Regions from separate parts of the Homo sapiens genome. Here region 1 is linked to region 2. The links come from fine-mapping of genetic effects on gene expression. Tissue or cell type: visceral fat. Region 2 holds a variant in brackets; the other region holds the start of a gene. All regions are shown on one strand. Distances are between the middles of the regions.

Region 1 (5,185 bases), 410 kb after region 2:
GGTCATGGTCTTGGGGCTGGACCAGAAATAGCCCTGATCTGCTGCCCTCACTGAATCCTACGGCTTTGTCCCTCGTGCTGTCCCAGCTCCCCTCAGCCTCACCTGCCTGCCTGTAACCGGGCATGACAAAAAGAGCCTTGGCTCTGGGTTCTGCCACTCCATCACTGCCAGCTGTGTGCCCTGGGAAGCCACTTGACCTCTTTGAGCCTGGCTTTCCTCATCTGTAAAATGGGGACAACAGTCCCATTTCACTGGGTACTGGGGTGGGGGGGTGGAATCAAATGGGAGACTGTTCATGAAAATGCTCTGTATATTAGAGGATTTTTTTCCAACGTAAAGAGGCTAAAAATAAGGCCTGATGACTAAACTAACATATACACTATCACATTTTGGGGGTGGGGAGTGTCTTCCTTGGAAGTGATGGAAATTTGCATTGAGTGCCTGGCATGGATCACCTGACTTAATTCTCCCGACAGTCCTAAGCCGACCCTGGGTTTCAGAGAGGTTTAGTAATTTTACCATTATCCCTCAGCTTGTAAGCCTGGAGCTAAGCCCCTTCCTCTCCTGGGCCGGGGGGCTTTCTGACAATTTAGGGTGCTAGTCTCCAAACTCGCCTGCTGGTGGAGCTTGTTAAATAGATCCATTCTGGATCCCCATTCTGCACCCCCTGAGTGATGGGTTGTATTAATCCAGGTATTTATTGAACACAAATTATGTGCCCACGATGAGGGAAGAGCAAACAAAGCAGATACAGCACCACCCTCAGGGATTGGGGAGTGGCAGCAACCCTCCTGGGGAGAGGTCCCCAGAATCTGGATGTGTACTCGAGACTTTTATGATCAGGCCAGTGTTTGGGGAATGGTGGTTATAAAATGAGAGGCTGGGGCAGGGAGTGGGGATGTTCTGAGAACCTGTCCACACACTGACAGCCTCAATGGGTTCTGTGGCACCCCTGAGCCCTGGGATGGCAACTGCAAGAATTTACTATCCATGGTCACAGATCTTCAGGCCCTGTGAAGCATCCAGATCCCCGCTCTGAATAGGCCAACTGGGCCAGGACCGGGAGTCAGGAAGGTTTCCGCCTTTTTTTTTTTTTTTTTTTTTTTGAGATGGAGTCTTGCTCTGTCGCCCAGGCTCCAGGCTGGAGTGCAGTGGCACCATCTCGGTTCACTGAAATCTCCGCCTCCCGGGTTCAAGCGATTCTCCTGCCTCAGCCTCCCACATAGCTGGGATCACTGGCACGCACCACCATGCCCGGCTACTTTTGTATTTTCAGTAGAGACGAGGTTTCGCCATGTTGGCCAGGCTGGTCTCAAACTCCCGACCTCAGGTGATCCGCCTGCTTCGGCCTCCCAAAGTGCTGGGATTACAGGCGTGAGCCACCGCGCCCGGCCCCTGCTTTCTTAAAGAACACGCGGCAGCTGTGTGTTACACGCTATGGCTGAGGTCAAGTGTGAGGGCTGGAATTGCTGACTGCCATGTTCTGGGTCTACTGAAAATAGCTGCCTGGCCTGGGAGGCCCAGTTCAGTCCGGGTGTGGGTCCCGCTTCACCTCCAGAGCAGCGGCAGCCGGTAAGGGTAGAAGCGGCCTTTGGAGAGGGGTCTCTGCAGCGGCCTGGGGACAAGATGAGGGCTCCTTTGAGTCCTGGGGTGCAGGTTATAGTAGCTAAAGGGGAGGTCTGAGACAGTGGGGTCTGGCTCCAAGGTAAAGAAGGAGCAGCAACCAAAAGGCCTGATGCGCAGCGCACCCATCGCAAGCATGGGCAGTGCGTTTAAGACTGGGTGACTCACTTTTTCTCCTATAAAATGGGCGCACGCAGGCCCCAGCTCAGCGCCAGAAGGGGGAGCCCCGGCGCGCCGGCAGAAGACAAAGGAAAAAAGCGTGTTTGCAAACGGGGAAGCGGCGGCGTGCTGCCGCGAGGGGCGGGGCGGGGCCGGGGGAGGAGCCCGCCTGCCGCCTGCCAAGCCCAGTGGTCCTGGCCGTGCGCCGGAGGCAGCGGCGGCGTGGCGCAGCGGCGACAGTAAGTGCGGGCCGGCTCGGGCTCTTCCGGCTACGGTCCCGGCCGCCCCCAGACTCGCGCTCAGCGACCTCCCTCCCGGGCCCTGGGGGCGGCTGCGGGCTGCCAGGGGAGCCGCAGGACCCTACCCCATCCGTGGTCCCTTCCCCACCGTCCCTCCTCTCTCTCCTTGCTCTCTGCCACCCCTCTTTCTGGGTCTCTATCTTCTCTTCCCCAAATCCTCTCCCCTCCTCCTCCCTGAGACTGGACCTCACCGCCTGTATGGTGGGGGCCTGGTATGGACCCGTCGGCCCGAAGTATCCAGACGGTGGCTGATTCTCTCGGTCCCAGCTGCGGGGCCTGAGGCTGGGGCTGTTTACACCGCAAAGCCGGTTCTGCCGCGGCCAGTAGGCGGTGCCCTGCGCTTCCCAGTGCCTTCCCACAGGTTAGCCCTACCAGCTCCCCACCCCGGTTCACAGCCCAGGAGATCGAGGCACAGAGGGGCGAGCCACCTAGCCAGAGTCAGGAACCTCCTTGGAACCAGCACCCAGGCTTCCCAGCCCAGATGAGGTTTTGCCGCGGCCCCAGCAGTGCCTGCCTCCTTGTGTGGGGCTGTCTGTCTGTGCATGGCCGGGCTCCCGCAGGTGACCCAGGAGCACGTTCCAGGCCACAGCCAGCTTGTTTTGGGGAAGGTTGGGCACTTCCTTGCCTGCCTTTCTCTTTATTTTTTAATCCAGAAGCCAGCAGCTAGCTTTTATAAAGACTAATAAGACTTTGCTCACTCCAGTGCCCTGGCCTGTGACCCTGGTTAGAGAAAATTCCTGGCTCCTTCTTCAGAAGCTCAGTCAAGCCTTGACAAATAGACGCTAGGAACTGAGAAGGGGGCCCTAGCCAGGTGTGGTCCTGAGTGACAGGGCTGGTGGACCTTCTAGCCGCCCCCACAGGTAGCTGGAGCCTCTGGAAAGAACCACTTGCCGGTTCTCTCTTGTTCTATGTGGGTGGGTCATGATTATTTTTTACATTTTAAACACTAATTTTTAAAATGTAACAAGTGAGCTTGTTACATTTGTACCATTTTGTGCCAGACAAAATAGCATAGACTGGGTGGCTTAAACAAAATTTGTTTCTCATGGATCTGGAGGCTGGGAAGGGCAAGATCAAGGTGCTGGTTGATTTGGTTTCTGATGAGGGCTCTCTTCCTGGCTTGCAGACAGCCTCCTTCTTGCTGTGCCTTCACATGGCTTTTCCTCTATGAGTGGGTGCATGTGGAAAAAGCGATTTTCCACACAGTGAGCTTCCAGACAGTGAGCTTGTTAATGCTGGCCTCCATGCGAATCCAGGCTGGGGAGGGGCTCTGCTAACCAGGGGAGTTTAAAATAGACTTGCTGGCTGGATGCATTGCACTTGGGCATCCAGTGGCCCCCCACCTGCTGGCTCCAGGGTACATGCTACCCCAGCAGGGGAGAATGTCCTGGTCGTGCAGAGTCCGTTCATTCAGCAAACATTGACAAGGGTGCCTGCAGTGTGCCTGGGCCCCTCCCGACTCACTGGCTTCAAGGCTTGCAGGAAGGATGCCTGTACTTGGAACCAGCAGACACAGATTCCCATTCCCAGCCAGTCCTCCCCGGTGTGCTGAGGAGTCCAGCATGGGCCCCAGTCTGCTTGGCTGTGTAACTTCACTCTTGTCATCTACTAGTTATGTGACCCTGGGCAAGTTACTCAACCTTTCTGAGCCTCAGACCCCTCTGTGAAATGGGTCTTAGAGTAGTACCTAATATATTAGGCTGTTGTCAGCCTCAAGTGTGACCTCTGTTAGGCACAGACCTTGGCATTTGTGATCACTGGACTTAAGTTTAGCTATTGGGAGTTCTTTCTATTTGTGGGACATAGCAAGTGCCTTCCAGACCTCAGTTTTTCCATCTGAAAAAAGGGGGCAATGTTTTCTGCCCTGCCTAATTCCAAGGGATGCTCTGAGGTTCTCCTGAAATAGTGGATAAGGTTCTGCACCCATGTGAGGAGGTGTTCCCATCCCACCAGGGAATAAAGGCCCCAGTCTTCTTGGTACGATGCTTTGAGTTAGGCTTAGCCTCCTATAGAAACCAAGATGCATTTATTTATTAGTTTATTGGGTGGGGAAGAGGCTACTGCAGAAGGGACTCTGAAGTGTCCCATCCTCAGCATTTTGGAGACATTTCTCATTTATCAAGCTGCTGCCACATCCTAGGTGCTATGTAGAGCAAAGAAGCAGGCATGCTACCTTACAGCCAAATTCAGCAGCCAGCCAGCCAGCCATGCGACAGGCCCAGGATGCCAGGGAGATGCTGACATTTGTTCAACAGCTGCTTATAGGCCAGGCATTGCCAGCCAGTTGCAGTTGCATAACTATCATAAAAACAGCTTCTCTGGGTTTACATTTGGGGAAATTGAGGCACAGAAATGTGGTAACTTGCCCAAGGCCATGTAGGCAATAGTTGCTGGCAGCCTAGGCTCTTCCATTTATCTTAGGCGCTACCATAGATTGAAAGTGGCTGGCTCCTTGTAGGGTGTGATGAGCAGAGGTGGGACCCAGGCAGGAGCTGCAAACCCAGGCTTGGCCATTTACGTGGCCTATGGCCTTCAGTTCTTTGGACCTCTCTTTCCTCACAAATGAAATGGGAATGGACTGTCAGAGGCTACACACCAGCTTCTGGAGGCAGCCCTGGACACTACCAGTTTTTTAAACAATTATTACTTAATTTGAATTTTTTTAAATTTACACTTTTAATTTTGTTTTTGAACCGGTAATAAACTAGTCACATAGTTCAAAATTCAAGAGACACAAATAAGAATGCAGGGAAGTCCCCCTCCCCGCCCCCCACCATCCCAGTTTCCCTCCTTAGAGACAGCCACTGTTAGAAACTTCTTATGTAGCCTTCCAGAGATATTCTGTGCATATACAAATACATATGTGTATGTATATTTTCTCTCCCCACTTTTTTTACACACATAGTAGCATATTCTACACACCATCCTGCTCCTTATTTCTTTCACCTGAAATCGAAAAGGGTTTAGAGATCATTCTTTGCCCATTAAGGGTCCTAATTCTTTTTTATGGCTGCACAGAACTGTGAATGCCCTTAGACCAGGTTTGCCTTTCTGGGTACATTGCCACAGTCCCCACTATCATGCAGTGTTTTACAAAACCCAGC
Region 2 (7,852 bases):
TGGGCGGAGAACATCCAGAGCTGGGTGGGGACAGGGGGACTCTGTGCTCCTGCTGCTACCCCTCACCTCAGGTGGGTGTTACCTGTGTTAGGCCGTTTTGTTTTCTATAAAGAAATGCCTGAGACTAGATAATTTATAAAGAAAAGAGGTTTAATTGGCTCACGGTTCTGCAGGCTGTACAGGATGCATGGTGCAGGCATCTGCTCCTGGTGAGGCCTCAGGAAGCTTCCAGTCATGATGGCAGGCAAAGGGGGAGTAGGCGCATCATAGGGTGAGAGCAGGAGCGAGAGAGAGGGGAGGTCCCAGACTCTTAAACAACCAGGCTCAGGTGAACTCACTGAGCAAGAGCTCGCTCATCACCAAGGGGATGGCACTAAGCCATTCATGAGGGGTCTGCCTCCATGATCCAAGCACTTCCCACCAGACCCCACTTCCCACACTGGGAATCAAATTTCCAGTGAGATTTAGAGGGACCCAACATCCAGACAGTGCCACTCCCTAAGGAGGGAGCCATCAGCAGATGTGGCGCAGGAGGCTGAGGCTGGGGAGATCTGGGCTGACCAGAGACCCTGAGTGGGCTACTGCTTGCGGTCCACTGCGGTGAGTCTCGGGGCTCCTTCTGGGGTCTGCAGGATGGTGTGCCTGAGGCTAGGGGCAGGTCCGGGAACCCCATGTCCTCTTCAAGGCCAGGCCACCCAGCCCTTCAGCAACACTGCCTTGGGGCCTGTCCCTGGAGAGGAGATGAGGCTGCTGAGCTGTGCCAGGGCTGCCTCAGCGGGGCTAAGTGTGTTGGAGGAGGCTCACATTCCTGGGTGTGCTCCCACAGCATGTGGGGTAGACCTGTTCAACCTGGAAGGACTCTGGCCCCAAGAGGTCAGAGTGGCTGCCGCAGAAGGACACCTCTCAGGCCTCCCTTCAGGAGAAGCTACCCCAAGGGACGTGACTGACCATCCCAGCTGCCGCACCTGCAGGCGCCGCTGTGGTACTCACTCCCAACACTTCCTCTCCCCGGACTGCCCCTGCTGGAGGCTGAGCCAGCGAGGTCATTTGCAGATGTGGGACTCCTCCGGGGGGAGTCTTTGCCTGGGTCTCTGCCTCACCTGGCTGAGGCATCCCTAGAGCGGTGCTGGCTGAGGCTCTTCCAATTCCCTTTCTGCCCCCATCCTTGCAGCTGTGACAGCTGGATGCCAGGGTCCGAAGGCTCTCCTGCCTATTCCTGCTCTGTACCCCCTTTATCCTTCAGAGATATTTCTTGGAGGACCCCCAGATGACTAAGCCTGAGGAAGGAACAGTCCTGCCGAGAGCCAAGGGGCCCCAGCACCACCCATAGCCCTGGCAGGTATGTCTGGCAGGAGATGCTGCCTGGAGACAGGTGGAACCCCCCCCATGGCAGCACCCCCAAGTCCAGCCTTTGAAGGAGCTTTTGGGGGCAGTGCTTGGAAGGCTTCAGTTCCCACACAGCCTTGGGCCTGACTCAGCTTCACTCACAGCCCTTGGTCTCCCCGTTGGCAAATGTGTGCTCGTCTAGGCCCCTGCCTGAGATCCCTGCTGGCCAAAGCTCCATCTCGGTTTATCTGGATCATCTTCTCCCAGAGCCTCCTGGCCCTTTGTGGGATTGAAAGGATGTCAGGGCAGGAGGGCCTTCAGACTCTATCAGGCTCCACCACTTAAATCTACAGAGAGGTACAGAGAGGGTAAGTAACTTGTCTGAAGTCACACAGTAGGTCTGAAGCAAGCTAGTCAGGACCATGGTTGTATGATGGTCCTTCCTGGTCTCTTCTCACCTGGCTGGGTGATTTCCTGTGACCTCAAATCAAATCAGAGGTCACTGCCTCCAAGGGCCATCCATATGCAGCCCAGACCTCTGAGGGGAGGGCAATGGGTCTCAGCATCTGCCTCCCCAGCCTGCAGACCAAACCCCTCCACTGACATTGCTGGGGCCTCCTCAGCCTGGCTCAACTGCCTCTCCTGGTTCTCCTAGGCCCACCTCAGGCTTTCACTCACTCCCTTGCCCTCCTGGGGGACCTTCTCCTCTTGACCCATGTATTAGTCTGTTGTCACGCTGTTAATAAACACATACCTGAGACGGGGTAATTTATAAAGGAAAGAGGTTTAATTGACTCACAGTTCAGCATGGCTGGGGAGGCCTCAGGAAACTTACAATCATGACGGAAAAGGAAGCAAACATGCCCTTCTTCACATGGCGACAGCAAGCAGAATGAGAGCTGAGTGAAGGAGGAAGCCCCTTATAAAACCATCAGATCTCGTGAGAACTCACTCGCTATCACGAGAATAGCATGGGGGAAACTGCCCCCATGATTTAATTACCTCCCACCGGGTCCCTCCCACCACACATGGGGATTATGGGAGCTACAATTCAAGATGAGATTTGGGTGGGGACACAGCCAAACCATATCTCTTCGAAGGTTTCCATGACCCCAGCCTAAATAGCCTGCCCTGGGCCTGGGCTTCTTGCTTGGCCCTTAGTGTAGCATAGTCCCCACCGTGGTCTTTGCTTCACGAGCATCTCCTGCCTCAGAACCAGCCTGAATGCACCTTGAGGGCTGGAGGTTTGAATCCTGGCTGCACCTGGCCCAGGTGGCTGGCTTTCTCAGCCCATGAGGTGGAGGTAAGAAAGTGCATGGGCTTTTGAGTTAGACAGACCTGGGTTTGAGCCGCAGTGTGGCTGGGGTGGCCTCCTCACATCTTTGTGAATCAGTTTCTTTGCATGTAAAATGGGGAAGTTGAAACCCATCTTGGATATGTGAGGAAGACCCGGCTAATGTATGGAAAGTGCTCGGGATGGTACCTGGCCCAGCGGCTCTTCCCAACCATCTAAGCTGCCTCCCCTTCCCTCCCTGCCTTAGGGTCTGGCTCAGGGCTGAGCACCCAGGAGATGTTTCAAATCCAGAAGTGGAACTGTGGGGAAATAGTGGAGGAGGCTTTCTGGGAGGGGTCTGCTGGGGAGACAGTGAATTCCTGTCAGCTCGCAGTGGAGCTCAGAAATACCGATTCAGCACTGGCTTCCAGAGTGAGAAACTCTGCAGGGCTGGGAGTTGTGGGGAGAGAGAGAGGAGATGGGAGGTGGTGGAGTGGGGGTGGGGGTGAATGAGGGAAAGAAGAGACAGAGAGAGAGAAAGAGGAGTAGAGGCGGAAAGAGAGGAGGTCAGAGATACAGACAGACCCGGAGGGAGAGACACCAAGCGACTGGCAGAGAATGAATCAAATAAACAAAAAGATGGAGAGAAATCCAGACAGTTAGAGAGGCAGAGAGCCAGGAGAGGAAGTGTGCAAGCTCAGGAAATGGAGAGAGAGAGGGAGACAGAGAGAGAGAGAGAGGGAGAGAGAGAGAGGGAGATTCTGGGGGTACAGTTTGCAGGCCAGGTCCCCTGTGCGCTGCCTGAGCACCTCTCCACAGGGCAGGTGGGGGGACTTCCTTTTGGGTGAGGACCTTTCAGGCTGTCTTTTTCCTGGTCAAAGGCCATGTCCACTCGTGACCCCTGTGAGTGCTTCCCTGGAGTCCTGCAGCCCAGGGCCAGCAGCAGAGTTGGCTGTGGCCTGATCCATGGGGGCTCTGGAAATCCTGGAGCTTGGTGATGAGCCGTTCAGAGAACACCTCCAAATGCCAGTGCCCCAGTGGAGGGGCTGAAAGCAGGGCAGGGAAGGGACATCTGTGGACTTGTATTTCAGGCCAGCAGGGCTTGAGGTGAATGGAGGAGGAGGAGGGCGAATGGTCAAGTTTTTTAGTCTCTCTGGGGTGGACAAGTCCACTCTGCCTCATTCCACTGCCTTAGCTTGAGTGCCTCTAGGGCCAGGTGGCTCCCGCATCCCCTAAGAAAGCCTGCTGTGAGAGTGGGAAGGTCTTCACTAGGTTGGTGCTGCCACTCTGGCCTTGGCTGTGGGGTGTGTGTGTGCATGCAGGTATAAGCTGTAAGCCAGCATGAGACCACAGCGCTGCCTGTGGGGAGAACTTTGCTCCCCCAGAGGAAGCAGGGTCATTTCTCTTTGGGTCCCTTAGTTGACTTCAAGCCCCTTCAGTCTCAGAAAAGGACTTTTGATAGATTCATTTATACTGAAATGCCAGGAAATAACTTTGTAGTTTCCCCTAAAGGGGCAATTTTAACCTAAAGCATCACTTCTCTCTGGGGCAA[T/C]GGCAGGCAGTGGGGTGGGAAGTTAGCGGGGAGGGCTGCTCTCTCTGGCTCCCGTTGCCACCAGAATCCCTCCTCCCACCTCTACAGCAGGCTCTTGGCAGGCGGGGACCATTTCTTCTGTTTCTTCTGTGTCCTTCCCAATCAGGACACAGTGAAGTCCCTCCAGAGGGGGCTCCCAGTGAGGGGTAGAGATAGAACAGCAAGAAGAGCCTTTGCACCCGTGAGCCACATCACCAAGCAAGCACTGACTAAGGTGTGAGTCCCAGCTGTGGGTGGCTGCTGTGTGGCCTTGGACAAGTCCTCACCCTCTCTGGGCCTCCATTGCCTACCTGGGAAAGATGAGGTTTGGGAGAGTGATGGTCATTGAAGGCTCCTCTGGCAGTGGTGTCTGAGGTTCTGGGCCTTTCACCCGCCTCAGGTTGCTGGTCAGCACCCGGGCCACGCACTGATTGCCACAGGACCGGGTGATGGATTCTAGATGACCCAGTGGCCCTAGACCAGCCAGGCAACCAGACTCTTCCATCCGGAAATAGTGGAAACGTTCTTTAGACACCCGCTTGTCTGACTCCCTCAGTGACAGGTGGGGAGACCAAGGCCTGGGTAGAGGGGTGGCTTGCCCGAGTCCCACATCATATGAGCATTGGGTCTGAATTACGAACAAGTCTCCTGCCACTTTTCGCAGTTGGTTGAGTCTTAGGGGTAAATCCTGGTGGGCTCCCTGACAGAAGTGAAAGCTAAGATAGGTTCTGAAGGAAAGTGTGAGTGGGGAGAGATGGGAGGGGTGGGTGTAATTTGCAGGTCTTACAGAGAGGGGCCCCAACTTCTGCCCAGAAGTCAGTTGGGAAGGGAGAGGGGCTGGGTGGTCCACCTGCCCTTGGCCTGTCTATCTCCTGCACCCTAAGGCTCCAGAAACCCCTGGCAAGGGCTGGCGTCTAAGCTGGCTGCTCTGCATTTGGTCTCTGGTGTGAGTACTGGAGGACACCTCTCCCTGTGGGCTGCCCCTGGGTCAGTGGCTAGACTGGGCTGGCCACCACCGTAAATCACCCAGGGAGCTGGGCTAGTGGACATGGTTTGTGCATCCTGGGCACCCACCCTGCAACTCTGAGAACGGACGGCAACATGTCATTTTAACAAAGTTGCCGATTTCCTTGTCACATAGGAGGTGGACAGCCATGGCCAGCACCACCTCACTCACCCCCAGACCCCTCCAGGACCTCCCCAGCCTGGTGAGTGGGTGCAGAAGGTGAAGGCTGACAGGTCCCATCAACTGGATTGGGGAGAGGCACCTACCGCCCCAGTGGAACTGGCATCTGAGTTTTGGTACCCCCCGACCTCCCACTCTGCCTCCTACTCTCTTGACCATCTCTCAGTGGGATCTCAGCAGATCCCACTGTCCCTGAGTGTGCTGTGCCAATTTATCCCCCAGATGTATGCACACTGCTCCTGCCACCTGGAACACATTCTTCTTTCCCCTCTATCTGGATTCTTCTTTCAAGGCCTAGGTGAAGACTTCTCCCTCCAGGAAGCCTCCTGTGGTTGTCCTAGCATAACCCTTAGACCTCTGAGAGCAGGTGAGCAGCTTTTGCTTGCTAACTTTGGTGATCAGGCTGGTTGCTGCCTGGAGCACCTGACAGAGGCCGCATTCAGGCTCAGCCGGAAAGAGTAGCATGGATGGGCGATGTCTATCCGGGTCAGGGAGAGGGAGGCTGGGGTGGCTTATGTTTACTTTCCTTGCTGAGGCTTCTGGGCCATGTGGCCATTGTTCATACCCTTTGTGCACGCAAAACTTCTCTCATCTCTTTACCCCCTGTCTGCTCAGGGGATACGTAGTCCCCTGACGGCAGGCGCCCAGCCTCATGCTTCCTCTGTGCCCCTCATCACGCTGGGCACACATAAGGCTCCGTAGACCTGAGTCAGATGGAGGGGCAGAGCATAAGATGCTGTCACTTTCCATGGGGAAACTGAGTCATAGAGTTTCAGAGCCATTTACAGGGAAGGGACCTGGGGCTCGGAAGGGGAAGGCATTTTCTCACGGCCCCAGAGGGAGTACTGGGAAGGCTCTATGAGAGACTGGCGGTCAAAGTGTAGCTTCCATGCCTGAAGGGTGTCTGGCAGTCCAGGTGGAGCAGGGGTCCCGATGCTGCCTCCCCATGCCCCCGGCCCTGCAGAGGCTCCTCCTTTTTTCATCCGAGGCTCTGAGAGCATTCATTAGTGCACTTTACTCCCATGTGGGGTATCCATGCCTTTCATTATTCCCATTTTACAGATGGGAACATGGAGGGAGCAAGGGGTTCATGGCTGGACCCCAGGTCCCATCCAGCAGGTTGCCAGTGGCTGTAGTGACTCTGGCCCCAAACATGGGCTGGCCATGACCCTGGCTCAGGTTGGGCCCCAGGCTTATCAAGGAGATGCTTCTCCCCTTAGGGGAGCCCAATGCAGAGAGTGTCTGAGCTAGAAAGTCACTTACAGGTTGCAGATTCTGAGCCCCTGGTGATCCAGACGGAGAAAATGAGTCCCAGAGAAGGTCAGGGGCTGGTCCCAGACCACACAGCTTCCCTTAATGGACAGGCTTCCTGACAACCAGTTCTCCCCCAGTCTTCCCAGAATGCAGAACAGAGGGAGAGCTGTGGCCGTGTATCTGGGTCCTTGCTGGAGCTCCATCCTGCTCAGGCCCGAAAACACTGGAAAGGAGACCTGGCTGGATGCTCCAGTAGCCTTCCCTGGGCCAGCATGGCACTGAATCTCTGCAGTCTCACCTAGCCTCAAGTTCTCACTGTAGTGTAAATGACTGATAGCAGAGCCTTTCCTGCAGCCATGTTGGCAGGAGGGGGAAAGGAGCCCCTGAAAGAGGAAATGGTACGCTTCTAGGTGTTGCAGGGATGGGTTGTGATGTAGTCCAGAGAGGGAGTCTGGGGGCCTGGACACTCAACTTCTTCTGAGCCCCGCTCCCAGATTGGCCCTCCTCCTCTCCCTCCTCTTCCTCCTCAGTCTCTCCGTCTCCCCTCCTCTTGTCCTCTTGCAGCAGCTGTTAATCCAGCCTCCCCTCCGCATGGTGCATTGTAAAGAGCTGGCCCTCTGACAGATTTGCATTGGTGGTTTATTGATTTAATTAAGCAGGGGCTGTAAACAGTGCCCCCCTCCTCAGCCTGAGGAGCATCCACAGGGCACCTGGCTGGCTAGCATTAAAGACCCATGGAGGCCGCTGACTGTGGAGGCAGCCTGATTTAAGGACCTGTGATTCCCGTGAACTTTGTTCCTCCATCCCTCTTGGATTCTATCAGAAGTGCCATCACAGTGGCAGTGATGGCTTAATCATAGCCCAGTGCCTCTGCCAGGGAGAGAGGGCCTCAGTGGACAGCAGGCAGAGGGTCTTGGGAGCCGTGGTTCTCAGTCTGCCCCGCCCCCTCTCTCTGGCCCCACCAGTCCGGGGCCCACCCCAGCTGTTCCCACTCCTGCGAGTGCCCTGCCCAGTGCTCTGGGAAGGCTGCTCTTTTGTCCTCAACAACAGAGCCGAAGTTCCGGAGGCCCATGGTGTACTTTACCGTGCCCACTCTTGCCTGGCATCTCCAGATGCCACCATAGAGCAGGCATTTGCTGCGTCTGCAAAATAGGCAGGAGTGACTGTAGGTGACCGCTGTGTGCCCCACTCCCTCCCAAACCAGGGAGTGCTGGCCTGGGAGACAGAGACCTGGGGTAACTGT

Alleles and levels. Alleles are on the strand shown, and positions count from the first base shown. SD is a standard deviation of normalised expression in the study named.
In carriers of allele C in region 2, the expression in visceral fat of the gene that starts at base 1,970 in region 1 tends to be higher than with T alone (moderate effect, 0.67 SD a copy in GTEx).

The links. PIP is the estimated chance that this variant, and not a neighbour inherited with it, causes the effect.
Region 1: SLC29A3 starts here. The variant in region 2 is fine-mapped to the expression of SLC29A3 in visceral fat (GTEx, PIP 0.98).

Annotation. Positions count from the first base shown.
Region 1 is chr10:71,317,290-71,322,474 of GRCh38, forward strand. It overlaps SLC29A3 (solute carrier family 29 member 3), which reads left to right and starts at 1,970. Exons shown (of 6, transcript NM_018344.6): 1 at 1,970-2,021. The coding sequence starts at 2,021. It overlaps LOC124902445 (a long non-coding RNA gene), which reads right to left and starts at 2,374. Exons shown (of 2, transcript XR_007062183.1): 1 at 2,273-2,374; 2 at 680-1,615. RefSeq lists a silencer at 1,767-2,216.
Region 2 is chr10:70,910,171-70,918,022 of GRCh38, forward strand. No RefSeq gene overlaps it. Among named protein-coding and RNA genes, the nearest start is that of LINC02622, 25 kb to the right of the region's middle. RefSeq lists a silencer at 7,566-7,740. The variant T/C (reference allele first, on the strand shown) is at 4,152.